Linked DNA regions of Homo sapiens: regions 1 and 3 are each linked to region 2. The links come from fine-mapping of genetic effects on gene expression. A gene starts in region 2. Each other region holds a variant in brackets. All regions are shown on one strand. Distances are from middle to middle.

Region 1 (11,641 bases), 160 kb before region 2:
AGGAAACGTCAGTCAAACTGAAGTTGTAAGCCATGTAAAATAAATTCTAATAATACAAGGCAGAGATGCAAATGATATAAAAGAAGATGTAAAATGGAGAATCAGTTCAGGAGAGAGAATATTTCCAGCTCATGATGGTTTTGGAGGAAGGAGAAAATGGATTGTATCTTGGAAAAAAAGTAGTTTTTTGATATAGAGAGGAAGGAAGAAAGGCATTTTAGGCAGAAGTTATAGCATAAGCAAAGAAAAGAAGTATTTAAAAATAGTGGACACTTTATGGTCAGGTTGGATTGCAGAATACATTAAGGACAGTGGTAGAAGATATTAAAAAATAGTTGTTTGGGACAAAATTCACCAGTGCATGGGATCCCAAGCTGAAGAGTATAAACTTTATTGTATATAAAATGCAACATAACGGAAGATTTTTCAACAAAATAATAATATATTTAGCTATGTTTCCAGAAGATTAATCTGACAATACAAAAGACAAAACACTGAATGGAAAATGACAGATGATAAGTAAAAGATTTGAAAGTATTTAATTTTCTTTTAAAATATATTTCAATATTCCCACATTCCTTGATAAAATAAATTAATCTATAATCCATGCCACATCTAACAGGCAAAAGAACATTTCTGGACATATAAAGGCTTATACTAATCTCCTATGAGATGATTTTTCTAAGATCCTCTATTTCCTGAGCTCCTAGTATGTATATGGCAATAAGAGCTGGGTAAGTACCTGTATCATTAGTACAGTGCACAGTAAGCCCTGAAGAGTTTTGCAGGACAGACTGCAAGGAAAACACCAAGCCTTCTGGGCCAAATAGATTATATTGGGTTCTTCTCAACTTCTGTAACATCACTTTCTCTTATTTGCCTCTTACCTCTCCGGAAACTTATTTTTTATATTTTCTTCTACCAAATCTCTCAATGGTGGAGTTCCTTAAGGAGTCGGAACTGGCCTCTCTTCTCTTCCTAGGTAAACTTATCGACCACCAAGGTATATGCTGATGACCAACAAATAATGTACCATTGCCCAAGAGTACCTTTCTTCTGAGCATCCGACTCCAGCATTCAGGGACACGGCTAGCTCTTACAGCACTTTTATGGAAATTAGAAAAGATGTGTCTTCTTCAAATCAAAATGTTTAAGTTACTATATATTGTAGTACAACACAAACAACTGTAAATGGTGGTCATTCTTTTCACAAATTCTCCCAGGGAGTACACACCAGCAGCAGCATGTGCACGCACAGTCTGCACCACCACCCCTCGTTCTCCAAGAGAGATGACCCTTTCAAGTTCAGAGTCAGGTGAGGAACAATTACATCCCTGAGAGCAGTGGGTGAATAAGCAAGAGAATCAACCTCAGAGGAGGTGAGAGGCAGCTGAGAGAGTGCAGCCACACATGTGTGCGTGTCAGTGAATGTACATATACTTATTTTCCTGTACCTGTGCATAGCTATAGTATGTGCGAGTATAGATTTATGTTTGGGGCAGCACAAGAGTTAACATTATTGCTCCAGAACTCTAACTAAAGATCTGGAATATTCATGCCCATCTGTATGTTTTCATAAAAGTATATATTTATAATGTGAATAATGCCACCTTATATGTGGCACTATTACCTTAACATGTGTAAATTAACTCTGCCTACATTCAATTGTAGACCCAACATCTCTATGTGGATGTATAATAGGAATCTCATTTTTAACATGTCCAAAGCAGACATTTTGATCATCTTCCCCAAATCTGCTTTTTCCTCAATCTCCACCTCAGTAAATGGCACCTCTATTCACCTAGTTGCTCACGCCAGACATTTTTTTCACGCTCTTCTCCCTCACTCTCCATACTCCTATCACCAAATCTAGGAGAAACTATTTCTAAAAGGATGCTGACTGTCCATTTCTCCCTATCTCTATAGATAACACTGTGATACTCATGCTACCATCTCTGGTACTGTCTAAAGCAACAGCCTTCTAACTAACTGGTGTCTCTACTTGCACTCTAACCCGCCCCGCCATGGCTCTCCGCCTTCCCATCTATAAACCATTTCTCCATATAGTGGCAAGAATAAACTTTACAAGTATAAATCAAACCATAATTGCAGTAGTACTAGAATAAAATCCGAACACTTTAATACAGTTGATAAGATCCTGCATGATCTTGAACCCACCTATCTTTAACCATATCTACCCATCACTATGCTCTACCCTGTTAAATAAAATTTATGGGAGTCCATTGTTTTAGACTGAGCTCCTGCACTAAGCCCCAAGAGACCAAACCAAAATGTAGTCACTTGTACTAAATGCCATACAATCCAACTGAAACTTTAAGAAAGAAGGAAAGTTCCAAAATGGACCAGTTTTTTCTAAAAACAAGAGATTCACAGCAACTAACTGAAAAAGGGGCCAGTCACCCTGAGCTGGCGTAAAAAGGAACTTATCTCTGCTTTAATCTTTACCAGGTAAGTAACCTGATGTTAATCAATATGCTTTTTTTGGTATTACAGATGATCCACCACTTACAATGTAGTTATGTCCTGGTAAGTCCATCATAGGTTGAAAATACTGTTAGTCAAAAATGTATTTAATGCCCCTAACCTACCAAGCATCATAACCTAGCCCAGCCTACTTTAAACATAATCAGAACATTTACAATAGCCTACAGGTGGGCAGAATCATCTAACATGAAGTCTATTTTATAATACAGTATCAAATAGTTCATATAGTTTATTAAATACTGTACTGAAGTACGGTTTCTACTAAATGTGTATCATTTCCATACCATCATAAAGTCAAAAAATAGTTCAACGGAACCACTGTAAATTGGGGACTGTCTGTATTGTGTTTCCTTGTTCCTGGTCTGGCTACCTTACCAGAACCAACTCTCTCCCATGCCCAGTGCACCCTTTCCATATTATAGAATGGGATGTTGCCTGATTCATGAATCACTACAAAAACCAATCAGATCTTTAAATTTGTTGGAATTTCAACCCACGCTGCCTTCTTTCCATTTGTCAAATGCATCAAGCTCTTTTCTGCTTCAGGGGCTTTCCCCATCTTCTTCCCTCTCGCCGGAACATTCTCACACTCCACTCTCTGCCTACCTAATTCATTCCCATCCTCTAGAGTTCAGCTCAAAAGTTTCTTCCTGGAAAAGATCTTCATAAGTTCGTAAAACAAAACTGGGTCTACTTGTTTATCTTGGAACTCTTCTTATTTTCTTAGCATTTATCACTTGTAATTACGTACTTATTTATGGTTTATTTGTTTAATATCTGTCAACCAACGTGAACATAAACTCCATTATAGTTTATTTTGAGCAATACTGAAATTGTAACACCTACCACAGTGTATCTGCGTGGAACACAGTAACATCTTTAATACCTATTGTTTGAATAAACAAATGAACGTGAGCTGACAGCTTCCCATCATTAAAAACAAACAAACAAACAAAACAACCTGATCATTGTAGAAAATTCAGGAAAGTATGAAGGAAACAATAAAAGAAAACCCAACTAAACCTTGGTTATATATCCTACTAAGTGAACATTTACAGGGATCATACCATATACAGTCTCATTACTATTTTTTCACTAAAGTAGAGATACATTTTAAATGGAATTCAGGGTTTAAAGTCAGCATGTGAGGTGAAAACCTTGCTATAGAGGGTCAAAATCACCCTTGAAGGTACCTTAGGAAGGCATATGTTGAAATTGACATCGTGTCTGCTCAAGAAACCCATGAGGGTCCACTTTTTCCTCCAAGCTTGTAACATAGCACTGCACCTGAATCTGAGCACCTGATGAAGTATCTGATATTGTACCAAAAAGACATTTCTTCAAACTCTAGAATCATACCCAAATAAGCAAGATAAGATGCCTACACTACAAAAGGCAAACGAGGACTACAATTAATTTTGAGAATGAAGTTTCCCATCTTTCATTACATATTCTTCCGTAGTCATATGTTCATAAAGGGTAGAGTGCATGCACAAAACACCTGCACTTTTAAAATTCTTTCTCTCCTCTTTTGTTAAGTATATTTATTTGAACTTGCTTAAGTTAAATACATGCATGAGACAATATCAACATATGCTAAAATTATTTATCACAGCTAAAGACATCTCACCGAATTCCACTCATCTGATTTAACTGTTTATGCTATCTTAAAGTTTCCTGTATTTCTCGTTCTGTTACTTTGCTAATTTCGTATACTCAACCCTGATTTGGAACATAGACATCTACTTTTAAAATTCAATTAAGATTTTTGGTAACTTCTTAAGTTTTTTTAACTGTGGTAAAATATACATAAAATGTAACCATGACCACGTGCGGTGGCTCACGCCTATAGTCCCAGCACTTTGGGAGGCTGAGGCAGGAAGATCACTTGAGGTCAGGAGTTTGAGACCAGCCTGGCCAACATGGTGAAACCCCATCTCTGCTAAAAATACAAAAATTAGCTGGGCGTGGTGGTGGGTGCCTATAATCCCAGCTACTCAGGAGGCTAAGGCAGGAGAACTGCTTGAATCTGGGAGGCGGAGGCTGCAGTGAGCTGAGATTGTGCCACTGTACTCCAGCCTGGGTAACAAAGCAAGACTCTGTTTCAAAAAAAAAAAAAAAAACCACAAAAAATTAATCATTTTTAAGTGTACACTTCAGTGGCATTAAGTATATTCACACTGTTATGTAACCATCACTACCATCTATCTCCAGAACCTACTCATCTTCCCAGACTTAAACTCTGTACCCATTAAATAGTAACTTCCCACTCCCCCTAGCCCCAGCCCCTAGTAAACACAATTCTACTTTGTGTCTCCATGAATCTGACTTTTCTAGGTACCTCATATAAGCAGACTGGCTTATTTCAGTTGGCCTAATGTCTTCAGAGTTCATCCATGTTGTAGCATGTACCAGAATTTCATTCCTCTTTAAGGCTGAATAATACTCCATTACACATATATGTCACATTTTGTTATCCATTCATAGATCAATAGACATTGGGTTGTTTCCACCTCTTGGCCACTGTGAATAATGCTGTTATGAACATGGGTGTACAAATAGCTCTTGAAGATCCTACTTTCACTTTGTTGGGGTATATATTTAAAAGTGGAATTACTGGATCATACTATAATTCTATGTTTAATTTTTTGAGGAATAGCCACAATGTTTTCCGTAATGGCTATACCATTTTACATTCCCACCAGCAATAAGCAATGGTTCCAATTTCTCCATGTCCCTGACAACACTGATAATTTTCCATTCTTTGCTTTTTTATTTATTTATTTTTTTACTATACTTTAAGTTTTAGGGTACATGTGACAACGTGCAGGTTTGTTACATATGTATACATGTGCCATGTTGGTGTGCTGCACCCATTAACTCGTCATTTAACATTAGGTATATCTCCTAATGCTATCCCTCCCCGCTTCCCCCACCCCACAACAGGCCCCAGTGTGTGATGTTCCCTTCCTGTGTCCATGTGTTCTCATTGTTCAATTCCCACCTATGAGTGACAACATGCAGTGTTTGGTTTTTTGTCTTTGCAATAGTTTGCTGAGAATGATGGTTTCCAGCTTCATCCATGTCCCTACAAAGGACATGAACTCATCATTTTTTATGGCTGCATAGTATTCCATGGTGTATATGTGCCACATTTAATTAATCCAGTCTATCATTCTTGGACATTTGGGTTGGTTCCAAATCTTTGTTATTGTGAATAGTGCCGCAATAAACATACCTGTGCATGTGTCTTTATAGCAGCATGATTTATAATCCTTTGGGTATATACCCAGTTAATGGAATGGCTGGGTCAAATGGTATTTCTAGTTCTAGATCCCTGAGGAATCGCCACACTGACTTC[A/C]ACAATGGTTGAACTAGTTTACAGTCCCACCAACAGTGTAAAAGTGTTCTTATTTCTCCACCTCCTCTCCAGCACCTATTGTTTCCTGACTTTTTAATGATCGCCATTCTAACTGGTGTAAGATGGTATCTCATTGTGGTTTTGATTTGCATTTCTCTGACGGCCAGTGATGATGAGCATTTTTTCATGTCTGTTGGCTGCATAAATGTCTTCTTTTGAGAAGTGTCTGTTCATATCCTTCGCCCACTTGTTGATGGGGTTGTTTGTTTCTTTCTTGTATATTTGTTGGAGTTCATTGTAGATTCTGGATATTAGCCCTTTATCAGATGGGTAGATAGCAAAATTTTTCTCCCATTCTGTAGGTTGCCTGTTCATTCTGATGGTAGTTTCTTTTACTGTGCAGAAGCTCTTTAGTTTAATTAGATCCCATTTGTCAATTTTGGCTTTTGTTGCCATTGCTTTTGGTGTTTTAGACATGAAGTCCTTGACCATGCCTGTGTCCTGAATGGTATTGCCTAGGTTTTCTTCTAGGGTTTTTATGGTTTTAGGTCTAACATGTAAGTCTTTAATCCATCTTGAATTAATTTTTGTATAAGGTATAAGGAAGGGATCCACTTTCAGCTTTCTACATATGGCTAGGCAGCTTTCCCAGCACCATTTATTAAATAGGGAATCCTTTCCCCATTGCTTGTTTTTCTCAGGTTTGTCAAAGATCAGATAGCTGTAGATATGCGGCATTATTTCTGAGGGCTCTGTTCTGTTCCGTTGGTCTATATCTCTGTTTTGGTACCAGTACCATGCTGTTTTGGTTACTGTAGCCTTGTAGTATAGTTTGAAGTCAGGTAGCGTCATGCCTCCAGCTTTGTCCTTTTGTCTTAGGATTGACGTGGCGATGCAGGCTCTTTTTTTGTTCCATATGAACTTTAAAAGTCGTTTTTTCCAATTCTGTGAAGAAAGTCATTGGTAGCTTGATGGGGATGGCACTGAATCTATAAATTACCTTGGGCAGTATGGCCATTTTCACAATATTGATTCTTCCTACCCATGAGCATGGAATGTTCTTCCATTTGTTTGTATCCTCTTTTATTTCATTGAGTAGTGGTTTGTAGTTCTCCTTGAAGAGGTCCTTCACATCCCTTGTAAGTTGGATTCCTAGGTATTTTATTCTCTTTGAAGCAATTGTGAATGGGAGTTCACTCATGATTTGGCTCTCGGTTTGTCTGCTATTGGTGTATAGGAATGCTTGTGATTTTTCTACACTGATTTTGTATCCTGTGACTTTGCTGAAGTTGCTTATCAGCTTAAGGAGATTTTGGGCTGAGACAATGGGGTTTTCTAGATATACAATCATGTCATCTGCAAACAGGGACAATTTGAGTTCCTCTTTTCCTAATTGAATACCCTTTATTTCCTTCCCCTGCCTGATTGCCCTGGCCAGAACTTCCAACACTGTGTTGAATAGGAGTGGTGAGAGAGGGCATCCCTGTCTTGTGCCAGTTTTCAATGCTTCCAGTTTTTTCCCATTCAGTAATGATATTGGCTGTGGGTTTGTCATAGATAGCTCTTATTATTTTGAGATATGTCCCATCAATACCTCATTTATTGAGAGTTTTTAGCATGAAGGGTTGTTGAATTTTGTCAAAGGCCTTTTCTGCATCTATTGAGATAATCATGTGGTTTTTGTCTTTGGTTCCGTTTATATGCTGGATTACATTTAGTGATTTACGAATGTTGAACCAGCCTTGCATCCCAGGGATGAAGCCCACTTCATCATGGTGAGTAAGCTTTTTGATGTGCTGCTGGATTCGGTTTTCCAGTATTTTATTGAGGATTTTTGCATCAATGTTTATCAGGGATATTGGTCTAAAATTCTGTTTTTTGGTTGTGTCTCTGCCAGGCTTTGGTATCAGGATGATGCTGGCCTCATAAAATGAGTTAGGGAGGATTCCCTCTTTTTCTATTGATTGGAATAGTTTCAGAAGGAATGGTACCAGCTCCTCCTTGTACCTCTGGTACAATTCGGCTGTGAATCCATCTGGTCCTGGACTTTTTTTGGTTGGTAAGCTATCGATTATTGCCTCAATTTCAGAGCCTGTTACTGGTCTATTCAGAGATTCAACTTCTTCCTGGTTTAGTCTTGGGAAGGTATATGTGTTGAGGAATTTATCCATTTCTTCTAGATTTTCTAGTTTATTCGCATAGAGGTGTTTGTAGTATTCTCTGATGGTAGTTTGTATTTCTGTGGGATCGGTGGTGATATCCCCTTTATCATTTTTTATTGCGTCTATTTGATTCTTCTCTCTTTTCTTCTTTATTAGTCTGGCCAGCAGTCTATCAATTTTGTTGATCTTTTCAAAAAACCAGCTCCTGGATTCAATGATTTTTTGAAGGGTATTTTGTGACTCTATTTCCTTCAGTTCTGCTCTTAGTTATTTCTTGCCTTCTGCTAGCTTTTGAATGTGTTTGCTCTTGCTTCTCTAGTTCTTTTAATTGTGATGTTAGGCTGTCAATTTTCGATCTTTCCTGCTTTCTCTTGTGGGCATTTAGTGCTATAAATTTCCCTCTACACACTGCTTTGAATGTGTTCCAGAGATTGTGGTATGTTGTATCTTTGTTCTCACTGGTTTCAAAGAACATCTTTATTTCTGCCTTCATTTCGTTATGTACCCAGTAGTCATTCAGGGGCAGGTTGTTCAGTTTCCATGTAGTCGAGCGGTTCTGAGTGAGTTTCTTAATCCTGAGTTCTAGTTTGATTGCACTGTGGTCTGAGAGACAGTTTGTTATAATTTCTGTTCTTTTACATTTGCTGAGGAGTGCTTTACTTCCAACTATGTGGTCACTTTTGGAATAGGTGTGGTATGGTACTGAGAAGACTGTATATTCTGTTGATTTGGGGTGGAGAGTTCTGTAGATGTCTGTTAGGTCTGCTTCATGCAGAGCTGAGTTCAATTCCTGGATAGCCTTGTTAACTTTCTGTCTCATTGATCTGTCTAATGTTGACAGTGGGGAGTTAAAGTCCTCACATTATTGTGTGGGAGTCTAAGTCTCTTTGTAGGTCTCTAAGGACTTGCTTTATCAATCTGGGTGCTCCTGTATTGGGTGCACACATATTTAGGATAGTTAGCTCTTCTTGTTGAATTGATCCCTTTACCATTATGTAATGGCCTTCTCTGCCTCTTTTGATCTTTGTTGGTTTAAAGTCTGTTTTATCAGAAACTAGGATTGCAACCCCTGCCTTTTTTTGTTTTCCATTTGCTTGGTAGATCTTCCTCTATCCCTTTATTTTGAGCCTATGTGTGACTCTGCACATGAGATGGGTTTCCTGAATACAGCACACGGATGGGTCTTGACTCTTTATCCAATTTGCCAGTCTGTGTCTTTTAATTGGGGCATTTAGTCCATTTACATTTAAGATTAATATTGTTATGTGTGAATTTGATCCTGTCATCGTGATGTTAGCTGGTTATTTTGCTCGTTAGTTGATTGATGAAGTTTCTTCCTAGCCTCAATGGTCTTTACAATTTGGCATGTTTTTGCAGTGGCTGGTACCAGTTGTTCCTTTCCATGTTTCGTGCTTCCTTCAGGAGCTCTTTTAGGGCAGGCCTAGTGGTGACAAAATCTCTCAGCATTTGCTTGTCTGTAAAGGATTTTATTTCTCCTTCACTTATGAAGCTTAGTTTGGCTGGATATGAAATTCTGGGTTGAAAATTCTTTTCTTTAAGAATGTTGAATACTGGCCCCCACTCTCTTCTGGATTGGAGTTTCTGCTGAGAGATCAGTTGTTAGTCTGATGGGCTTCCCTTTGTGGGTAACCCGACCTTTCTCTCTGGCTGCCCTTAACATTTTCTCCTTCATTTCAACTTTGGTGAATCTGACAATTATGTGTCTTGGAGTTGCTCTTCTCGAGGAGCATCTTTGTGGCATTCTCTGTATTTCCTGAATGTGAATGTTGGCCTGCCTTGCTAGATTGGGGAAGTTCTCCTGGATAATATCCTGCAGAGTATTTTCCAACTTGGTTCCATTCTCCCCGTCACTTTCAAGTACACCAATCAGACGTAGATTTGGTTGTTTCATATAGTCTCATATTTCTTGGAGGCTTTGTTTCTTTTTATTCTTTTTTCTCTAAACTTCTCTTCTCGCTTGATTTCATTCATCTGATCTTCCATCACTGATACCCTTTCTGCCAGTTGATCAAATCGGCTACTGAGGCTTGTACATTCGCCACGTAGTTCTCTTGCCATGGTTTTCAGCTTTATCAGGTCCTTTAAGGACTTCTCTGCATTGGTTATTCTAGTTAGCCATTCGTCTAATCTTTTTTCAAGGTTTTTAACTTCTTTGCCATGGGTTCGAACTTCCTCCTTTAGCTCGGAGTAGTTTGATCATCTGAAGCCTTCTTCTCTCAACTCGTCAAAGTCATTCTCCATCCAGCTTTGTTCCATTGCTGGTGAGGAGCTACGTTCCTTTGGAGGAGGAGAGGCGCTCCGATTTTTAGAATTTTCAGTTTTTCTGCTCTGTTTTTTCCCCATCTCTGTGGTTTTATCTACCTTTGGTCTTTGATGATGGTGACGTACAGATGGGGTTTTGGTGTGGATGTCCTTTCTGTTTGTTAGTAACAGTCAGGACCCTCAGCTGCAGGTCTGTTGGAGTTTGCTGGAGGTCCACTCCAGACCCTATTTGCCTGGGTATCAGCAGCAGAGGCTGCAGAACAGCGAATATTGGTGAACAGCAAATGTTGCCGCCTGATCGTTCCTCTGAAAGTTTTGTCTCAGAGAAGTACCCGGCCGTGTGAAGTGTCAGTCTGCCCCTCCTGGGGGGTGCCTCCCAGTTAGGCTACTCAGGGGTCAGGGTCCCACTTGAGGAGGTAATCTGTCCGTTCTCAGATCTCCAGCTGTGTGCTGGGAGAACCACTACTCTCTTCAAAGCTGTCAGACAGGGACATTTAAGTCTGCAGAGGTTTCTGCTGCCTTTTGTTTGGCTATGCCCTGCCCCCAGAGGTGGAGTCTACAGAGGCAGGCAGGCATCCTTGAGGTATGGTGGGCTCCACCCAGTTCGAGCTTCCCGGCCGCTTTGTTTACCTACTCAAGCCTCGGCAATGGAGGGCGCCCATCCCCCAGCCTCGCTGCCGCCTTGCAGTTTGATCTCAGACTGCTGTGCTAGCAATGAGCGAGGCTCCGTGGGCGTAGGATCCTCCGAGCCAGGTGCGGGATATAATCTCCTGGTGTGCCATTTTTTAAGCCCGTTGGAAAAGCGCAGTATTAGGGTGGGAGTGACCCGATTTTCCAGGTGCCTTCTGTCACTCCTTTCCTTGGCTAGCAAAGGGAATTCCATGACCCCTTGCGCTTCCCGGGTGAGGCGATGCCTTGCCCTGCTTCGGCTCACGCTCGGTGTGCTGCACCCACTGTCCTGCACCCACTGTCCTACAATCCCTAGTGAGATGAACCCAGTACCTCAGTTGGAAATGCAGAAATCATTCGTTTTCTGCATCGCTCACACTGGGAGCTGCAGACTGGAGCTCTTCCTATTCGGCCATCTTGGCTCTCTCCGCTTATTTTTTAAAATAACAGTGATTGTAATGGGTGTGAAGTGGTATCTTACTATGGTTTTGTTTGGTATTTCCCTCATGATTAATGATATAGAGAAGATTTTCAGGTGTTTATTGGCTATTTGCACGTCTTCCTTGGAGAAATGTCCATCAGATTCTGTGCCCATTTATGAATCAGATTGTTTGGGTTATTGTTGTTGAGTTGTAAGGGTTCCTTACATATTTTAGGTATT
Region 2 (9,786 bases):
CCGAGGCGGGTGGATAACCTGAGGTCAAGAGATCAAGACCATCCTGGCCAACATGGTGAAACCCCATCTCTACTAAAAATACAAAAATTAGCTGGGCATGGTGGCGCGCATCTGTAGTCCCAGCTACTGCGGAGGCTGAGGCAGGAGAATCACTTGAACCCGGGAGGCGGAGGTTGCAGTTAGCCAAGATCGGGCCACTGCCACTCCAGCCTGGTGACAAAAGCGAGAGACTCCATCTTAAAAAGAAAAAAAAAAAAGATTTCCAAGCACTGTTGATGACCCAATTAAAAGTTGGAGACCAAGAATTTCTAGTGATGCCAACCCAGAGAACTGAATTATCTTCCCCAGCACAACTCAGAAATTCAGGTTAAGGAATTACAAGAAGTGCCTGAATGGTCTGTAGGACCAGCATAAAAACAACATAAGGCTCTGAATCACTCACTTCCCTCTTAAAAAGACTTAGTTATAAGACTGGTCATATTTTGCTTCAAATTTAAACAGTATCATAGTTTAACTCAGCCTTAGTAACAGGACTACAAACTTAATCACTGCCTTATATAACACCACTATAACTCCCTTATTATCTAGTGAGATATGAGAGTAAATTGAATAACACAATTTTGTCATTTAACTTGAGAGTAAACTGGATGAAATTAATGTTTCCTATTATTTGATCTCATCCTCTAAATACGCAGCATTAGATGTTATACAACACATCTAAGAATTTCATAGTTCATAAATTTCTAGCAAGAAACATACTAAGCATTTTTTCCTTAAACACTTTCCAACCTATGCCAGTAAGTTTCAATATGCCAGTGAACTAAAGGAAAAATTATCTGAACACTCCTTGTATCATTGTAAATCTACCTTTAATACAGAAAATCATCTATATATTCTATATATTATCATATATTCTCTCAGGTAAATAAGAAAATATCTAATTTTTCTCAGGGGAAAGAAAAAACTGTGGGGAGGAAAAAATACTCTGGGCTCTCAGAAGTAAGATTTTCTATTACCCATAGATAGTTCACGATTAGAGGCCGGGCGCGGTGGCTCATGCCTCTAATCCCAACACTTTGGGAGGCTGAGGCAGGCAGATCACAGGTCAGGAGTTCAAGACCAGCCTGGCCAACATGGTGAAACCCCATCTCTACTAAAACTACAAAAATTAGCCAGGCGTGGTGGTGGATACCTGTAATCCCAGCTACTCGGGAGGCTGAGGCAGGAGAATTGCTTGAACCCAGGAGGCAGAGGTTGCAGTGAACCAAGATCGTGACACTGCACTCCAGCCTGGGCAACAGAGCAAGACTTCATCTCGGCGGGGGAAAAAAAAGATAGTTCATTATTAAACAGGAAAATAATTTTCTCACATTGGCTGTAGTAAAAGAGGGTTAGCTTAAAAATTCCTCCTCTGGGTCCCTATCTCTCACCATATGCAAAGATTAACTCAAGATAGATTAAAGATTTAAATGTAAGGCCCGAAATTATAATAATCCTAAAGAATACTTAGGAAAAAAGTTTATGATTAAGACCTCAAAAGCAAATGCAACAAAAATAAAAACAGACAAATGGAACTTAATTAAACTAGAAGAGCTCCTGCACAGCAAAATAAACTACCAACAGAGTAAACAGACAACCTACAGGATGGGAGAAAATATCTGCAAACTATGCATCTGACAAAGGACTAATATCCAGCATCTATAAGGAACTCAAACAAATCAACAGGAAGAAAAAACAAATAACCCCACTAAAAAGCGGGCAAAAGACTGAACAGACACTTCTCAAAAGAAGACATACGAGCGGCCAAAAAACATGAAAAAATGCTCAACATCACTAAGCATCAGAGAAATGCAAATTAAAATCACAATGAGATACCATCTCACACCAGTCAGAATGGCTATTATTAAAAAGTCAAAAAACAGATGTTGGCAAGGATGAGAAGAAAAGGGAACACGTATACACTGTTGTTGGGAATGTAAATTGTTCAACTCCTATGGAAAGCAGTATGGAGATTTCTTGAAGAACTCAAAACAGAACTACCATTTGACCCAGCAATCCTACTACTGGGTATCTCTCCAAAGGAAATTAAATCATTTCATCAAAAAGACATCTGAGCCAGGCACACTGGCTCACACCTGTAATCCCAGCACTTTGGGAAGCCAAGGCGGAGTATCACTTGAGCCCAGGTGTTCTACACCAGCTAGACGCCATTAAAAAAAAAGAAAAAAATCTGTGCTCATATGTTTATCACAGCACCGTTCACAATAGCAAAGTCATGAAATCAACCTAAGTGTCCATCAACAACTGAATGGGTAAAGAAAATGTAGTATGTATTAATATACATTGTGGAATATTATGCAGCTATAAACAGAATGAAATCCTGTCCTTTGCAGCAACATGGATGGAGCCTGGAGGCTATTTATCAAGTGAAACAATTCAGAAACAGAAAATCAAATACCACATGCTCTCACTGGTAAGACAAGTGGGTACAATGGGTACACAGAGGCATAAAGATAAATGGGTACAATAAGTACCCACAGACATAAAGATGGAAATAAACAGACACTGGGGGCTCCAGAAGGAGGAGAGAAGGGCTGAAAAATTACCTATCAAGTACAATGTTACACTATCACGTACAAAGGTATATTATTTGGGTGAGAGGTTCACTAGAAGCCCAAACCTCACCATTATGCAATATATCCATGTTAATTACGTGCATATGTACCCCCAAATCTAAAATTAAATTAAAATTTTGTTTAAAAAACTCCTCCTCTAGGCTTCAAGATAAAGTTTGAATATTAATAGTTATTCAAGCAAGAAGTCACAGGACAAAATAAAAGTTAGAAGACCTAGTCAACAAGTGTGGCTTTAATTATGGTCTCTATGTAAATGACTTACAACTTGAAATCTCTAGCCCAGCCTTCTCCTTCAATCTTCAAAACCAAACTCATAATCTTAAGACTCACCCAACCAATTCCACCACCCACTCACAGCCACCACCTCCACCATAAATCTGGCCATATCTTAATATTGGCACAACCATTCAAACAATAACCTAACACCTGGCTACTTCACCTTTCACATCCCATCCGTTATTAAGTATGATGATTTTGCCTCTTAAATATCTCTCAAATCAGTCCACTTTTCCCTGTATCCACCAACACTTCCCTATTCCAAACTTTCATCATCTTTTGCCGGGCAATGCTGCAATGGTCTCCTAATTTATGCCCTTGACCTATGGCTACTGCTCCCCATCCCACCTTGCTATCACAGCTGTTCCACACTCTGCTATACACCTGACCTTTCTGAAACACCTAACTTATCATACATCCCCTCGTTTCAAATATTTTCTTCAACTCCCCAAAGCTCCAGAGATAAAGCCCCTAAATCCTTGGCATAGCACACAAAGCCTTGCAGTCTGTGCTCAAACCACGTTGGCTTCTGGGTCCTGGAAAATGCCATGCTCTCTCTCATCAACAGTACCTTTTCATGTGTTTTTCCCTCAGCTAGACGGCTCTTTCCCTCCCCTTTGCCTGATTAACCTTAAACTGTCTTCAGATATCAGCTCTATCATAACCTCCTCAAGAAGGCTTTCCCAACTTCACTGACAAGGCCAGATTATCTTACTTTATGCTTTCATAGAATATTAGCACATATATTAGTTTCACTTTATGTGATCATCTGAAATCTGTCTGCCTCCCTGTCTAGACCATGAACACAAGGAAGGCAGAGACCAAAAATGTTTGGGTTCACCAAGCTTTCCTTAGCACCCAGCACAATGTGTGGCACATGGTGAATTCTAATAATACATGTTCAATGAATTAAGTACCCCCTGGAATATTCACCAGACAAAACAACAACTACTGCTCATTAGTGACAAAACTCTACACCTTCACTGTCTGTGATGATGGAACTGTTCCATTATCTGCTCTGTCCAACATGGTAGCCACTAGCCTAGTGTGGCTGCTGAGCACTTGAAAACCGGTAAGAACAGACGCATGGAATTTTTCATTTAATTTATTTTTAACTCTTACTCAAAACTATAATAGTTTTCTCTTTAAGATGTAAAAAGCCACACGTGGCCAGTGGCTACTGTACTGAGCAGGGCAGGTCTTGCTCCTCGAAAAGCAGTAAGTTAAAAAAAGGGGGGTAAGGGCAGCAAATTAAATGGAGAGTTATTTTCAAAATGATCTTCGGGGGTCTACCATGAAATCGGCTTTCTCCATTGTGTATTATCTGTGCTTTGTAGTTTTGCAGACTGTTTGGAGCCGCATCACAAGCCTCCTGCATTCCAAGCCCCTCCTATCGGCTGGGGAACCCCTTTATTGCTACAAATGATGGTCCAGGGGAGGAAAACCCGCGGGGAGCCTCTCCAGACTAAGTGATCGCGCGGTGTACATTATCCACATTACTCCCTCAGGGGAGTCCTGCAATTCAGTCAAGCTCATCTGTTCACTGTCTCCCCAACAAGATGCTCCCCAGGCAACCACTCGCTCCGGTCCTACACCGCCTTTTCCCTCCTTCAAGGCTCGACACACCCGTGGTCCTCTCTCAGCGTTTCTCACGGGGAATGCAGGCTCCCCTGAACGTCTACGGGAGTTCAAAAGGCCCAGGACCCACCGAGGGGGAGGAAACGAGAAGTCTTTGCCACAAAGCCTGGGAGACGCGGAGCAGCCGGCCGGCACCTGGGCTGGAGTCTGGGCCGCCTACTAGCCTCAGCTGCGCGCGTTTTCTCCGTCAGGCGGCGTGACCTGCGGGCGGGCGGAGCGCTCGGGGCCCAGCCTCCACCCCCAACTCGCCGCGGCTCCACACCCCTCCCCGGCCCGCCTCACCTTCTCCAGGGAGGTCCGCTCGCCCTCCGAGTAGCGGTGCTGCGGGGGCGACAGCGGAGGCAAAATCCTGCCGGGGTGCGCCTGCAGCCAGGCCTTGGCCTCCTCGTCCTCCTCGTCGTCTATACTTTCCAGATGCTGGGGCCCGTAGTGAGAGTCGGAGTCCAACTCCCGCCCCGCCTCTTCCTCCACCTCCTCCACGACCACTACGTCGTCCACGTTCGCCGCCGCCGCCGCTGCAGCCTCCTCCTCTTCCTCCTCCTCCTCCTCCTCCTCCTCCTCCTCCTCCTCCAGCTCGCCCGGCCATGGCAGATCCTCGGGCTCCATGTTGGTGTCTCGCTCTGGGCGGCAGAGGAGGAGGAGGAGGGGGGGAGGGAGGGGAAGGGGAGAGCCCTGACTGGCGGTTGTGGCCCAGCTTAGGCGCAGTGCCGCCCGCCTGGGCGGGGCCGGAAGACCGCGCGCGCGTTGCTAGGGACGCCGCGCGAGGCCCGGCGGGAACGCCTTAGGGCGGAGGTTTGCTACAGGCGACGTTGCCGCCTCGCCGCCGTCACCGGCCGGGACCTTGCGAACTGTACTGTAAGCTCACAATAAACCGGGACTGGGCGCCTTCCGGGGCGCAGAGGGCCCCGCGCAAGGACAGTGTAGTTCTCGGCTGGGGTCGAGTTTCGCCCCTGCACAGAGAAGAGATCAAACTCTAGGACGTACCCGTTATAATCACACATGCAAATTATAAAGTTTTAAAGGTTGAGTATCTCCTAAAGTGTCAAGCTGTATGGTGGGCGCTTGAACCTAACCGTGGAAAAGTGTCACGGGTTGTTAGAGGGATTAAGAACTGGGCACTGGCATCAGAAAGATCGGAGTTTGAATCCTGGCATCACCACTTAAAGTGGTGTGACTTTGTGTTTATAAAACGATGATAATAGGCCATCGCATAGGATGGGTGTGATAATTAAAGGAAATAATCAATGTGAAGGACTTAGTGATAGGTTGGTTATTGTACAATAACTCATTAGATGCTCACGGTTCTGTGAGACAAGTATTACTATTTCATGTATGAAGAATCTGAGGCTAAAAAAATTAATTTGCCCAAAGTTTCTTACCTAGTAAGTGGCTGACTCAGTATGCCATCCCAGGTCCTCTGTTAGTGTAGGAATTGCCCTGGCCTAGACCAACCAGCTGTTAAAGGATAACAGAGCAAATATTTATACTGATAGTACATATGTTTTGGTGGTTCGTCAATGACTTTGGAGTGCTTTAAAAACAAAGATTTCCTGACCGCTTCAGGAACCTCTACGAAATGAATGGCAAATTAAAGTATCTTAAGATGCCATGTAACCAGACACCACCTGTACCCCCAATAACCTATGGGGAAAATTTTTAAATTAAAATTTTAAATAATAATTATAATCTTGAGATGCTTCACTGTTACCAAAGGAAATAGCCATAATTAAAGTGGAGTCCAGCAAAAAGTCTTCATGGTATTACCCACAATAGTAGAGATACATTGATAATGATGCTGAACCAATGTTGGTGGGGCAATTTTAGGGTTATTGCCAAGGATGTATGTCCTGCCTACCTGTCAATGACCCAATCCTGGCAAAACTTTAAGGGTAGAACATGAACTGGAGCCCAGTCTTGGAGTTCTGTTGAACACCTCTAAATGGACTATGAGTACATTAGGGTTATTTATTCTTAAGGGGTTTAGGGGTTCTCCTTGCCGGAGACCTATTACTGTAATAGTAGAAAAGAATTTATTAATTTTGTATTCCTGAATGTGAAATCTCAATGTTTATCTCCAGTAAGAGGACACACATTTCACTGATATTAAATAACTGTAAAGCTTTACCTTTTTAGAAACTCCGCTATCTTTTTGCATCCACAAATTTCAGGAAAGATAAAGAGAACTAATAGAATTCTAAAAAATAGCTTTCAAAGTTCTCTAACTTCCATCTAACTTCCAAAGCCCAAAGTACTTCTATTTGCCTTGATGGCAATAAGGTCAGTCCATTCTAAGGCCCATAAGTTATCTCCTTCTGAGTTAATAACAGGCTTCCTCATGTATTTGTGAATTACTTCCAATACTAGATGCTACTAATATAAGCTGTTATCACTAATTGCTGCAGGAGACTTCTAAGATTAACTCCTGCTTTATCAACAACAGATGGAAGCTGCATTCTCAAAGCACCCACCTAAGCAGCTTCTGAAGTTAGAGATTTGGTCTTCTGAAAAAGCATTAGAAAACAATTTCCCTTGAGCCTCAATGCAAGAAAAAAAAATGTCAGGTACTATCAACAACTGACCCAGGAGTAAAACTAGAAGACATTGATCCCTGGATTCATATTACACAACTAAAAAGACATGCATCATTTTCTCCTGGCTACCGGACATCCCATACTATTGGAAGACCTCAAACTGAAGATTCCTGGGACTTCCCCAGAAGCTGCTTACTGCAGAAATGGGCAGTTTATACCCAAGACAACAGGACAAGATTAATTTCTGATTCCTTGGCATCTCTTACCCTACCACTAATCTTGCTTATTGCATTTTGACACCCTTGATTAACTAACAAATTGATTTCTCGGGGAGATAACCCTTATCTTCATCCTGTTACTTTTGACTCCCTATGTTCTACTACTTAAAGTAAACATTATTTGGCCAGGTGCAGTGGGTCATACCTGTAATTCCAGCACTTTAGAAAGCCAAGGTGGGAAGATCACTTGAGACCAGGAGTCTAACTAACGTAGGCAATGTAGCAAGACCCCCATCTCTAAAAACAATAAAAAATTAGCTGGGCATGGTGGCACGTATCTGGAGTCCCAGCTACTCAGGAGGCTGAGGCAAGAGGGTCCTTGAAGCTCAGGAGTCCAAGACTGCAGTGAGCTGTGATCGTGCCAATGGGCAACAAAGTGAAACCCAATCTAAAAAAGAAAGAGAGAAAGGGAGAAGAGAGAAAGAGAAAGGAAAGGAAAGGAGGGGAAAGGGGAAAGGGAAAGAGAAAGGAAAGGGAAGGAAAAAAAGAAAAGAAAAGAGACACTTTCTGGAGTGTTTTTCTCAAACCGTAGCTACTGCTTTTAAGGAATTGTTGACAAAATTTAATAACTGTGCTTTCATAGACTTCATCAAGTAGATTTTCTTCTGTAGGTCACTTCTGGTACTTAAGCATTCCCCACAAAGTTCATCCCAAACCTCAGTCTTCTAAAAATTGGACCTTGACCTACACTTCAACAGAATGTTTCCCTGAAGTCATTACAATCCTATGAGAAAAACCTAGCCCTTCAGGAATAGAAACTAATATTGGGGCTATTCTTTATACACTACTCAGGTCATTCTCTTCCAAAACATTCCAGCCTGCTTTGGAGAAACCTGTTTAACTTCATCCAAGAAATCTGCTTATCCTGAGGGAAAGAAAGTTGGCTTGTCCCTGATGTGCTAAATAGCCCTTATCCTCCCAATGCAGTCTGTACTCCCCTAGGGTACTACTTATTTATGGGAACATCTGGCTTGCCCACTAACTTACCCTTTATATTGAAGCTAATTGTTAGAGACCCTCCAGTGCTTAAAATTACCACCCCTCCAGTAGACTGTGTTTCTTTGAAAAGAACACCCAGAAACCAACAAAATGAAGCAAGCACACAATCACAGACTACTTGGGAGAACTCCCAGGAGGGATAACTGACTCATTTTTCATGTGTACTCTGTGAATGAAATTCCTACAACAAAGATAATACAACAGAAAGAGATCAGATCCAAGAGAGGTATTTGACCTTAGCAGACCCCATAGATAGCAAAACTTCTGCTATAGCAGCTCAGAAAACCACTTAAATTTGAATTCCTTAGCCAGAGTTTTCATGGATAATTATATAACCCTTGATTTCTTCTTAGCTGGCCAAGGAGGAGTTTGTATTTAGCAACACTTGTCACCATACTCACATACTACTGGGCCAGTAGAACATACTACAGAGTCAGTAGAACATGAGTAAACTGAAAAGAGAAAATCCTCCTGGCTCCCTAAAAACAGACTCAGCTGGATTCTGGGGCATGTTTTCATTGCCAGGACTTTATAATCTGGGTCCCTGTCTTCAAGACTTTTTACAAAGATGGATAATCATTTTGTTTCTGGTAATTGCTTCTTTTGCACTTGGTCAACGTATCCTATCCACAGCCCTAGTTTCTGCACAGCCATTGTCATATCATATGATTCAACAAATCCTACAACAGAAGGCGGAATTAACCCAACTACAGACTGCATCCTCCAGATCAGCATAAATTTAGCAATAGTGAAAATCTGAATATCATAGATTAATGGTCCTGTGGCCTGACTTTGTCTACCCTTGACCAACTGGAGGACTCACTAAATAAATCTAGGGTGCCTGGGAACTGGTCTGACACAGGTAACTAAGCCTCAGGGTTGTCACATGCTGGCCTGGCATTCACCATCATCCCTCAATATTCTCCTGTTGAGCATAAATAATCTCACAGAACACCGACATCACACATGGTCTTTCTGTGACTGAAGAAACGAGACATGACAAGACCATTTCATAACCTTGCCTAAGCACAGACAAAAACAACGTTACTGTGCACATCAAACACCCTCCTTTTCCAGTTAATTTGATGGCTGTTTTTTTAAATCAATTATAGCTCTACCATCACTGTGGTTTGTTTTTTTTTTTTTTTTTGCTGTCACCTAGGCTGGAGTGCAGTGGCACGATCATGGCTTACTGCAGCCTCGACTTCACCAGCTCCAGTGATCCTCTCACCTCAGCCTCCTGAGTAGCTGGAACAACAGGTGTGTGCCACCGTGCTCAGCTAATTTTTTTTTTTTTGGTAGAGATGGAGTTTCGCCATGGTTCCCAGGCTGGTCCTGAACTCCTGGGCTCAAGCAGTCCACCCGCCTTGGCCTCCCAAAGTGCTGGGGTTACAGGCTTGAGCCACTGTGCCCAGCCCATCACTGTAT
Region 3 (11,597 bases), 40 kb before region 2:
GAAACAGTAAGAAGGAAAAAGAAAACAGGAATATTTTCTAGAAACTCACAAATGTTTAGAAGAAAAATGAGAGTATCAAAGAACTATAACTGTGATCGGTTACCAACAAGCATAAGTCCTCAAACTTCTTAAAACAAAAGTAGTGGAAACTATAAATTGGTAGTGAAGTAAAGGGTAACTGCTCAAAAAGAAGTTCCTAATGTTTCATCAAGTCACAAGTTCTTGCTAGAAAAGAAATTAGAAACCAATATTGGTGACATTAATACCTAAACATGTACAACTTTTCACCAAATTCACAGTGCACCCTCACATAAAAATATATATCATTTTTAGATTGTCTTTATTTCCCTAAAAAGATTATTTCAGTCACATCTTCTCAGGATGAAGTCTAAAAATGTACATAAGCATGAATTTTTCTATCCTCTTTCATCAATTTTTCATTGTGTAGTAATGAACATTCTTAGGAAGCCATGTGAAGTGTGGAAATGAACATTCCATATCTATTTCTATATCTACATCTACTGCCCATACAGGTTTCTCTACTTTTCAACTTGTGAAGATTTTGTACCCATCAAGGGACATTTGACAATGCCTGGAAACATTTTTTGCTGTCATAACTTGTGAGGGGAGGGGATGTTACTAGTATCTAGTGAATAGAGGCCAGGGATGGATGATGCAAAACATCCTACAATACTCAGGAAACACGCCTCCCACCATAACAAAGAATTATCCAACTCAAAATGATAAGGCTGCTAAGAAGCCCTGCTCTCCACATAGCACAAAGTTCATAGTTTTCAATTACCTCACTCCTACAGGAAACTTCTCTGAAGTACAGGCTATATATATACACATATATACATACACATAAATATATATAAATATATATGCATATATATAATATGCAGTCATAGATCACTTAATGATGTGGGTATGTTCTGAGAAATGTGCTGTCAGGCAATTTTGTTGTTGTGCAAACATCACAGAGTGACTTACACAAACCTACAACTGTGTAGCCTACTACACACCTAGGCTATATGGTCTAGCCTACTGCTTCCAGGATACAAACCTATCAGCATGTTACTGTTCTAAATATTGTAGGCAACTGTAACACAGTGGCATTTGTGTATCTAAACATAGGAAAGGTACAGTAAAAATACAGTATTTTAATCTTATGGGACTACCATCATATATGCAGTCTGTCACTAACTGAAATATCATTATGTGGCATGACCATATATAATATATAGACACTTGTGAGAGACAGTGTGTGTTTATAGTTTACAGCAGTTTTTCTTCTACAGCTTTCAAACACAGAAAGAAAAATTTTTATTACAAGCTTGACGTCAAAAAAATTTCATTATGTTAAAGTTTCAAAATATAGAACTATTAAAGTAGGTAATACCGGCCAGGCACGTTGGTTCACGCCTGTAATCCCAGCACTCTGGGAGGCCGAGGCGGGCGGATCACGAAGTCAGGAGATCGAGACCATCCTGGCTAACACGGTGAAACCCCGTCTCTACTAAAAATACAAAAAATTAGCCGGGCATGGGGGCGGGCACCTGTAGTCCAAGCTACTCAGGAGGCTGAGGCAGGAGAATGGTGTGAACCCGGGAGGCGGAGCTTGCAGTGAGCTGAGACCGCACCACTGCATTCCAGCCTGGGCAACAGTGGGAGACTCTGTCTCAAAAAAAAAAAAAAAAAGTAGGTAATACAAAAGAAAATGTAAAATGAAAAATATGAGAAGTATTTATTTAAGAAACCAGCAGATCTTCATTGCTAATTGAAAATGGAAAGAACCAGGAGAAAACAGAAATCAAGATTCGTTTATCTTCCCAATGTTTAATCAATAATGAAGAAAGAATGAAAGATGACCAAGAAACCAGAAAAATACTAATACCTTTCATAAAAACTCAGGAACTCTACAAGTCAGTCTAATTTTAGGAAAAACATGAGTTATTTTGCTATAGAGCAAGTTGAATTTGGGGTGATGACAATGTTCACAAGAAAACATGCAAAATAAATTAGACAAATATTAGGGTATAAAAACAGAGGTGATAATCATCCACACAGAGACAGGCAACTAGGTCTCCAAAGGTGGGGGGATATGAAGGGGAGAGAAAAGAAATCTAAGGCTTAAACCTTAAATAATTTTTAGAGCTAAATGGCCAAAACAAGAGGTACTAAAATAGCATATTAGGCCAGGCACGGTGGCTCACGCCTGTAACCCCAGCACTTTGGGAGGCTGAGGCAGGTGGATCACCTGAGGTCAGGAATTCGAGACTAGCCTGTCCAACATGGTGAAACCCCGTCTCTACTAAAAAGACAAAAAATTAGCCAGGCATAGTGGCAGGCACCTGTAATCCCAGCTACTTGGGACGCTGCAGCAGGACAACTGCTTAAACCCAGGAGATGGAGGTTGCAGTGAGCTGAGATTGTGCCATTGCACTCCAGCCTGGATGACAAGAGCAAAACTCTGCCTCAAAAAAAAAAAAAAAAAAAAGCATATTAATTATGTGCTGCTACCAAGAAAAAGGAGAAAGAAAAACAAAATAATGATAGAAAGTAGGAAACCACCAGAGACTCTAGTAGTCTAGTTTCAGCAAAGTGAAGAGAACTAACAACCAGGCACTATATAAATGCTACATAACTTACCCCATTTAATAGTACGATGTATAAGGTTATTACTATTCCTATTTCCTTATGCAGATCAGGAAAGTGATCCTCCGAAGTCATTTGCTCAAGACACAAGGCTAACAAAGTAACTGAACTGGATTTTGACTCAAAATCTCTATGTTCTTTTCACAGTTCCAAGCTCCATCATACATACGTGGATACCCAAATAATCATTTATGAGGAGTAGATATAAAAGTGAACCAAGTAACTATGAATGACTCTTCTGTGACACAGATGAGGAGCATAAGGAAAAACCAAGGAGTAAGCAAGCCCCTGAAAGCAAGCTAAGCCATGCAGAAAAAGTACTACCACATCTGGCTCCTTGCTTTTCTGATATTGACATTAAATAACTCCTAGATCTAAGACTAAGACAGATAGAGCTACAACTGAAAGACAATACAGGGAATAATAGCATCTTCCTTAGATTGAAAGAATAATACTTCAGGCTATATTTAAGGACAGATTAAAATTTGGAGCAGTGGTCAAAGCTAGTCTCTGCACATTAACTGAACCTATATATCTTTATTTTTAAAATACATTTTATCTACATGAAAGGTTGATGTAAGTCACAAAAGTAGTATTAAAAATTTAGAACACTTTAAAAGTTGTTACTTTGTTTCTCATTGTTATTGAACTCAACTTTAGGCAATCTCCTTCAAAACCTCTACTCTTGCCAAAATAATGCAAAATCTTAACCTTAGTTTCACCAAGAATAGTTAAAAGGTGGGGGGAGGGGGAACAGTTTATGGTATGGTGGTTAAGTACACAGATATGGTTAGTTTCAAATACTGGTTCCCCCAATTGCTGAATAATTATGAGCAAGTTCCTAAATCCTCTAAGTGTCAATTGCAAAATAGGGATGATAATAATCTCTAACAATTCTATTTGATAGGATTGACAGAGGACAAAAACGAATTGATATATACATGTAACCTCTTAGCACAGTACTTGAGCACAAAGTGTTAACTATCATTTTCATCCCCAGTTATCAGATTAAAATTAAAAAATGCCTAGTTTGGAATACTGAAGAAAATAAACCTAGTGATTCTGTGTTAAAAAAACTTTAATAAATGTAATAAATTATAAATAAAAGTTCATCATAATATCTTTGTTCATTTTCTACCAACAATCTGAACCTAAAGGTCTAAATGTGGTTGTAACCCAAACTAATAGAGCTTTACAAAAACATACCAATCTTATACATAGGAAAAGAGAAGTAACATTAAGTACATCACTATTTTATCTAACTGTATTTAATGAATAACAGGATATAAGGCTATATCACAAGGAAGTAGGGCCCACCTTGGGACTTACAGTACCAGACAACAAAAGAGGATATTCATTCAACGGGACCAGAGGAACATTAATGCCAAGGGATCCAAGGATCCAAGCAAATAAAAGCCTTCTATAAAAGAATGACACAGGGAGGGGAACATCACACACCAGGGCCCGTCGCGGGGTAGGGGGTTAGGGGAGGGATAGCATTAGGAGAAATACCTAATGTAGATGACAGGTTGATAGGTGCAGCAAACCACCATGACACCTGTATACCTATGTAACAAACCTGCACGTTCTGCACATGTGCCCCAGAACTTAATTTAAAAAAAAAAGGCTGATATAAAATTTTTATGACATCCTAGAGTTGCCAGTTTCTAGTACACACACACACAATGGTAATAATGATATAAATAGAGAGAGGGAAGAGACATGTATATACATTAGTATGTTGCTCATTTGGGAAGGAGATACTTCCCTTTGAAGAGACACTGGCCAGTTTGGACGTTAAGCACTTCATTATCCTTCCTGGTCAAACATGGGTCTTACAATTTTCAAGACACCTCTGAAGTCAAGTCTTTCAAGAGCTTCTAAACAGAAATACTTAAATATTCCAGGGACTGTTTCAAGGCTTGTGCATTGAAGACCAGAGGGAAACATTCAAAGTACAAGCTTTTGGATGTTCCCATGAATAAGCCTAATCTTAACACTGTCTAAAGACTCTTGCTGGCACAACTAGGAAGAGTTAGGCTGCCTCAATATGAAAGGCCTGGAGCCCCATGGGATGCCTTTTCCAAGACACCACAGAACTAAGTCTTACAGTCTATGAAACATAAACATTTCTTTTATACCAACCTCTAATGGAACATATTCCTGGATATCAGATGAAGAACAGGTACAAGTTACAAGCTGGTACTGAAGGATATAATTTTTCAAATAAAGTATTTTCAAATAAAATTTGGAAATTTTTCAAATAAAACATTCCCTCCCCGCCCAGAAAAAAATGTCAAATAGAAAAACTTACAGGCTTTTCAAAATTGCTTTCCTTCTCAGATGGTAGTTGTAAAGTAGGCTGCCAGTGCAGGGAGCTGTCATGCATCTCTAGATCACCATGAAATTTCTC[T/C]AAAGCTGCTAGCTCAATGTACTCACCAGTCAAATGACATTGGTCATGTACCCAGGAAACAGTAAAAAGTAAAATAAAAACAAACAATACCATTTCCTGAAACAATACTGAAAAAGGCCACGTTTCTTACAACTATCATTTTATTGTGTCTCACCTTTCTTTGTAGTTCAGCAACTCTTTCACTGCATACAACAGCATTTTCATTTAGGCCATCCAGAGTAATGACGTCAGACTCAACCTTCCCCTGCAGGCCCTCTACAAAATAGGAGTCATTTTGCATAATTGTATGTATAGTAAAACTAGGCTCAGCTCCCACACACGAAGGACTTTCACCTTGGCCTATATCAGCTTTCAGCAATGTCTCTTGGGCGACTGCAATTAATGATGCATCACTGGTCAATGGTACAAGCACCTTGTGACTTTGCATCACATGCCACCAAGTTTGCTGAAAAGCTGCTTCCTACAGCTGCAGGTGGACCTTTAATGGCATTTCTACAGTTAACATCCTTACCCAAATTAAAGTTTGAGTAATCTGCAACTTCTTCAAAGGTTGGCTGCTTTAAATCTTGTAAAACCAAAGATTCTGAAGTTAATACTTTCACATGATAAATAACATCTGAAGATCCTACCTTCTCTGCAAGGTCAAGAGAAGGAACAGACTTTATCTTCCCAAAGGGAAGAAATGGTTCATTGCCTATATCACACTGAAATAAAGCTGACTGTGTTTTGCCAAGACCAACAGCCTGGTTGTAAGATTTTTCACTCAAAGAAGCAGATGACTTAAGCTCTGGAATAACACAAAGTGGCTTAATGAACATTTTCTGAAGAGCATTAGGGGGTAATTTTAAATTTGGATGCCAGTATAGGAAGCTATCATTATTACCCTTTTTATGCAACAATGGTTTTGAAGCTGCTGGTTCAAACACCCCAGGAGTAGACTGATAGCATGGATGTTTAAGCCTATCAAATAAAGAGGTTTCATCATTATAATTTAATGGAGAAAGATCTGGATTTTTTGGCTCTCTCTCGGCTGTCATCTGTTAAATATTTATTGATGTCAGCTTGGATTTCATTTACTGTACTCTCTTTCTTAGAAGGCTCAATAGAGGCAATAACTGCCTCAAAGGCTATATTTTCAGCAGCATCAATATTTTTCTCACCAAAAAGAGAAGTTCCCTTTTGGTTTCTTTCCTCTTGAAAATACAGTTGTTCTGATATCTCATCCAAGTTGGATATAACAATCCAACCAGAAGCCTCCATTTTAGAGGTATTATGTCCCCTGGAGAGTACATGTGCTTCTGAAACTTTTACAGAATTATCAGGAGCTATAACATTCCTAATATACTGTATTTCTAAGAATCTGGGTTGCACTTCTGAAGATACTAAATTATTTCTAGTCTCCGTTAGTTCAAAACATTGAGATGATTCTTTCTGTAAACCTTCTTCATTTCTTTCATAACCCTCCAAAGAATCCATCTTTTGTTTCACCTCAATCTCAGCTGGAGCCCTTAAATAAACATTCTCAAAATAATGACTATCAGAAGTCAAGGGAACCCCTTTTCCTCTTCTTTCCAACAAACAACACAAGAAAGAATATGACATTTTATGATGATGATGATGAGCAGCAACTTCACATGGAAAGGAAAAACAGTCCTTACTGATTACACACGTTTCTGGGTGGTGCAAAGTTCCCTCTTTGTTCCATGGCACATAGGAAAAGGGGACACTAAAATTGTTACTTCCCTTGGGAATTTTATTTTTATCAATTGTGTCAGATGAATCTGAAAAAGAATCAGGGTACTTACTGGTTAAATATGTTTCTGCCTGCTTAGATGAATCTTCCTGTGTCCAATACTGCCCATATGAACGAGCAGCATCAAAATGGTCACTTCTTTTAGTAGCTATGTTTTCATCAGTTATGTCAAATGAAGTTGCAACTGAAACTTGATCTTTATCAGCTAAATTGTTTTCAGGCCACTGTGTATCTTTTCGTGTCTTCCATGACATATATGAACAAAGATCATCATAACGATCACAGTCTTTGGGAATTTTCAGTTCATCAACAGACGAAATAGTCTCTTCATTATTCCCTTGTTCAGAAGGTAAAAAAGGGCACTGAGACCCAACAGCTGTGCTGCCTATAAGCGGGTGCTGAGATACACTAAAGCGACTGCTTGCTAAGTCTGAAGCTACTTCTGCAGTAGCCTGGAATAAAGCTTCACTAACTTCCGATGGTCGAGAAGACCATTCAGTATCTTCAGACTTATCAGGAATTCCCCTGAAAATATATAGTTAAAAATAAATAAATAAATAACATTAAAAACATTTAATTTTTAAGTACTAACACAAAAATACATATGTCACTGAAATCAAGTTTATTTGAAAAGTGTATTGAAAAACACAGCTCTCCTAATTTCAGACTCTTCTAAGATGGCTAATGACTGAGTAAAGCAAATTCTTTTTAACTAAAAGGTGAACTACCACCCTATAACCCTGATATTATCTCAGACTTCTCCTAAAACAATAGACACAGAATGTGATTTTCATAATGACGCCTACCATGATTTTTCATTTAACCTGCGTTAACTTTTTTACTAGTCATCATTTATTGTGCTCTTGAAACCATGCAAGGCCAGGCACAGTGGCTCACACCTATGATCCCAGCACTCTGGGAGGCTGAGGCAGGAGGATCACCTAAAGCCAGGAGTTCAAGACAAGCCTTGGCAATACGGCAAGACCCTATCTCTACAGAAAAATTAAAAATTGGCTGGGCATGGTGGCACATGCCTGTAGTACTAGCTGCTGTGGAGGCTAAGGCAGGAGGATTGCTTGAGCCCAGAAGTTAGAGGTCACAGTGAGCCATGATGGCACCACTGCACTCCAGCCTGGGCAACAGAGCAAGACTCCATCTAAAGAAAAAAAAAAGCAAACAAACAAAAAGAGAAAGAGAAAGAAACCACTTAAGAAGTGATCTATTCCCAAAACACAACAGTAACTTAATCATTAGTTGATGATCTAATGTGTATAGATCACTTTTCATAAAAGTGATATCAGGTAAATATATAGTATAAGGACAGAGGTTACTTTTTACTTTCTAAACATCTATAGTTTTTAATTTAAGGTGGGTTTTCAATTCTAAAAGAAGAAAACATATTCTTGAATAATTCCAAATATGTTTTGAAAATTCCAGACTTTTCTCCCATTATGACTATTCTAAAGGACATGAATTTGGAGTATCTGTTCATTTGGATATGTCTGTTCATAAAAATCTTCTTACTTCATATTGACACCTCCTATAAGGTAAGGAGAGCTAACTAGTCTCATTCAATAACAGCTGAACAAAATGAGAGTGCCAAACAAGTTAGTGAACAAGAAATAAATGCTTTTTGCAGAATAAGGGTGAGAGGGAGGAGAGAGATGATGGGCAGCAGATGGGGAGGTTTATAAGAAGGAAAATCCAGTGTGTCTTCTAAATTAAAATATGCCTGAAATGCCTGAATATATTAGGAATTATTTTTAAATAAACTACTGTCATCTGGTTCATCTCTACACATACGTTACTCTGCCAAATTAATATGCATCAAGTCTTAGTACAGGACTTTGTTACCTTCAGGGCGTGTCCTAAGAGTATCTAAGCCCCACCTCAAAGTCCCACCTTAGCCTGAAGTCACTAATATTAGTAAAAACATAGAACAAGAAGTGAGAAAGGTTACATGCAAATAAATCATCCTACCTCAGAGGTGCAAAACTTAGTTCACTTTGATGAAATAAAGAATCAGGCGCAAATTCTTGGTCTTGTGTCAAACAGGTCAGCAAAGGCAAATCAGGAGAAGCAAAGCTATCTTGTATGACTGTAAAGTTTCAAATATTAAATGCTGGGTAATGCTGAAAATTGATTATTTACTTACGTATATAATACTTTAAAGCACCTACATATGCTGCCATATGGAGAATTCTACAAGCATTAGAATAATAATATAAAAGCAACAGCAGTAGCAGCTACCATTTATTGAGAGTCTGACAAGGTCCAGGTGCTTAACACACAATATTTCATTTAATCCTCATGACAACCTTGAAAGATAGGTATTATTATATATATCTTATAGGTGAGGAAACATGATTACAAAACTTACAAAGCATTAAGTAACTTGTCCACATTCAAGTAGCTGAAATGCCAGAGTGAGATTTGAACCCAAGCATTTCAACTTTTAGCAAACGCTCTTAACTATTATGAGTGTTTCTTCCCATCTTACATAATATAGACTACACCCGTTATGTCAAAGCATAGCACAGGAGCTCCTGGGCCCTAAGACACTCTTAGGGGGTACCTAATGTCAAAATTTTATTCAAAATAATATTAAGATATCATATGCCTTATTCACTCCCATTCTCTCAAAAAGATACAGTGACATTTTCCAGAAGCTACAGAATATATGATACAGCAACAGATTGAATACAGAAACAGACATGAGAGTCTTGATGTTTTCTATTATGTCAGACATTATAGAATTGTTTAAGTAAAACATGGCCATACTTCTAAACATTTTTGTATTGGAAAAGTTATTTTTTATAAAATATGTACTTTTTCAATGAATTAATAAATACATTTTAAATGTTTCAGTTTTAATTTCTAATGTGGGAAATATCAATAACCCAAATAAACAAAAGCTCTTTGGAGTTGTCAGTAATTTTTAAAAGTGTAAAAGAATCCTGTTACCCAAAAAGTTTGAACTGCTGCTTTAATGAAAAAAAAATTCTTGTGATTTCCTGAATGTTGACTTAAATCATTCTTATTTTAATCAGTATACTTTCTTGATTTCAGAATGCCTGCAACACTGTGTACAAAGTGAGGACTCCTCTCTCACATTACTGTTCCCCCTGAAATTACTGCAAATCTAGAGTTCACAGAGCTCACCATGTTGTCATCTGTCCTTTACTTAGTCAAAACACATACTGTCACTGCTTATATACCCTGCATACCTTCCATATAATTCATCACCCTCTTGTTTTAATCTTCAGTCTATCCACTTCCCATCTAAATTGTCAACTGTGTCTACTTTATCCATAGCTATATCCTCAGTGCCTAGCAAAGTACCTGCTACACTTAAAAGGTACTCAAAAGAGAGTTATTTATTTACTGAATGAATTAATTAAAAATGAAAAACTGATATGTAACAATAACCTTTGCCACCAAGGAACAATTGGTACAGTTCCTCTTTGGTCTTGGCACAGAGAAGCAGTCTTAAACCTCCGTAACAGTCCTTCACCCCTCTAAAACTCATGAAGAGTTTTTAACAAAGTCCCCAAATACACTAGAGCTGATGCTACAAGGGGGACCTTTGGGCAAGTAAAGCAAATTTACTATTTCCAGTTAACTGCAGGCTGAGTATTTAAAGAATCTGACAGTCTTTTCTCAAAAAAAATTAGAGTTAACCCTAACTAGGTTTCAGAACCTACAGAAATCCTCAGTACCTAAAATAGCTATTTAAGTATAAGTAAGGAATAGTAAGTAACAAGTAAGTTACAAGCAGCATTTCAGCATCTCCTTAAATATTTAAGAATATCTCAGGGTGGAGTTGGACAGTTAAATCACATAAATAGGCAAATGTATTTGCTAAAGGAGCAGGCCAAAGCTGAAGAGTTAATGATTCTCAAGTGTACAACATTATCTGTGTGTGTGTGATGGGAAGGTGGTGTATTTTACTTGCCATGCCTTTTTCTTACAGCTTTCAACTGCTTCTTGTTTCCTCAAGTGTGGATATCTGTTACTGGCTTGCATCCCTCTTTTTTGAGGTATCTAACCATTCTGGCACCAGCCATCATCAATTACATTTGCCATTGGCGAGAGCCTATTTATCACAATGTTAGTACTTATGCGTAACAAAACAGCAATGATAAAATTTCCTCTGCCTATGAGATCCAGGAATCTACTCCAATAATTTAAAATGTTCTGCCCTAACTATAGTAAATGAGAAGCCAGAGTTATAAAACTTTACATTAGAAAACATTTTAGGTCACGAAGTACAATCTCCTCCCCAGTGCTAAAATCCTAATACAGAATTTTGCTAGACATTTTGCAGTGACATGAAGCTCACTTTTTGTTGTTGTTATATAGCCTTTTTTAGTATTAAATGGCTCTATTAGAAAGCTCTTTTTTACATCAATTTGAAAAATAGCTTCCCTTTAAGTTATGTATCCATTTTAAACTCTAGGAGTTAGCAAACCTTTTTTAATAAAGGGTCAGATGGTAAATATTTTCGGTTTTGTTGGTCATACATACTACTGTTGTTTGTTTTTACAATCCTTTAAAAATGCAAAAATCATTCTCAGCAGATGGACAGTACAAAATCAAGACTTGGCCTGTAAGCTATAGTTTGCAGACTCCTGCTCTACACCATTATAATACAAATCCCATGGTACTGTTATTTTCTGTTTACTGGATTGCCTTCCCAGAAGAGGAGGTAGCTTTCATCTATATACCCCTAGCATCAAACACATAGGAGGCACTTAGATATTTGTTACATGA

What was found.
Region 1: its variant is fine-mapped to the expression of ALMS1 in whole blood (TOPMed, PIP 0.96).
Region 3: its variant is fine-mapped to the expression of ALMS1 in whole blood (TOPMed, PIP above 0.99).

The regions. Positions count from the first base shown.
Region 1 is chr2:73,538,169-73,549,809 of GRCh38, reverse strand. The region is part of intron 12 of ALMS1 (ALMS1 centrosome and basal body associated protein); the gene reads right to left. Among named protein-coding and RNA genes, the nearest start is that of ALMS1-IT1, 87 kb to the right of the region's middle. The variant A/C (reference allele first, on the strand shown) is at 5,867.
Region 2 is chr2:73,381,239-73,391,024 of GRCh38, reverse strand. It overlaps ALMS1 (ALMS1 centrosome and basal body associated protein), which reads right to left and starts at 5,189. Exons shown (of 23, transcript NM_001378454.1): 1 at 4,833-5,189. The coding sequence starts at 5,156. LOC105374804 (a long non-coding RNA gene) reads left to right here and starts at 5,344. Exons shown (of 4, transcript XR_007087053.1): 1 at 5,344-5,572. RefSeq lists enhancers at 4,401-4,640, 4,681-5,430 and silencers at 4,701-4,870, 5,031-5,430.
Region 3 is chr2:73,420,182-73,431,778 of GRCh38, reverse strand. ALMS1 (ALMS1 centrosome and basal body associated protein) reads right to left here. Exons shown (of 23, transcript NM_001378454.1): 4 at 8,805-8,922; 5 at 6,877-7,349; 6 at 5,226-5,326. Among named protein-coding and RNA genes, the nearest start is that of ALMS1-IT1, 31 kb to the left of the region's middle. The variant T/C (reference allele first, on the strand shown) is at 5,072.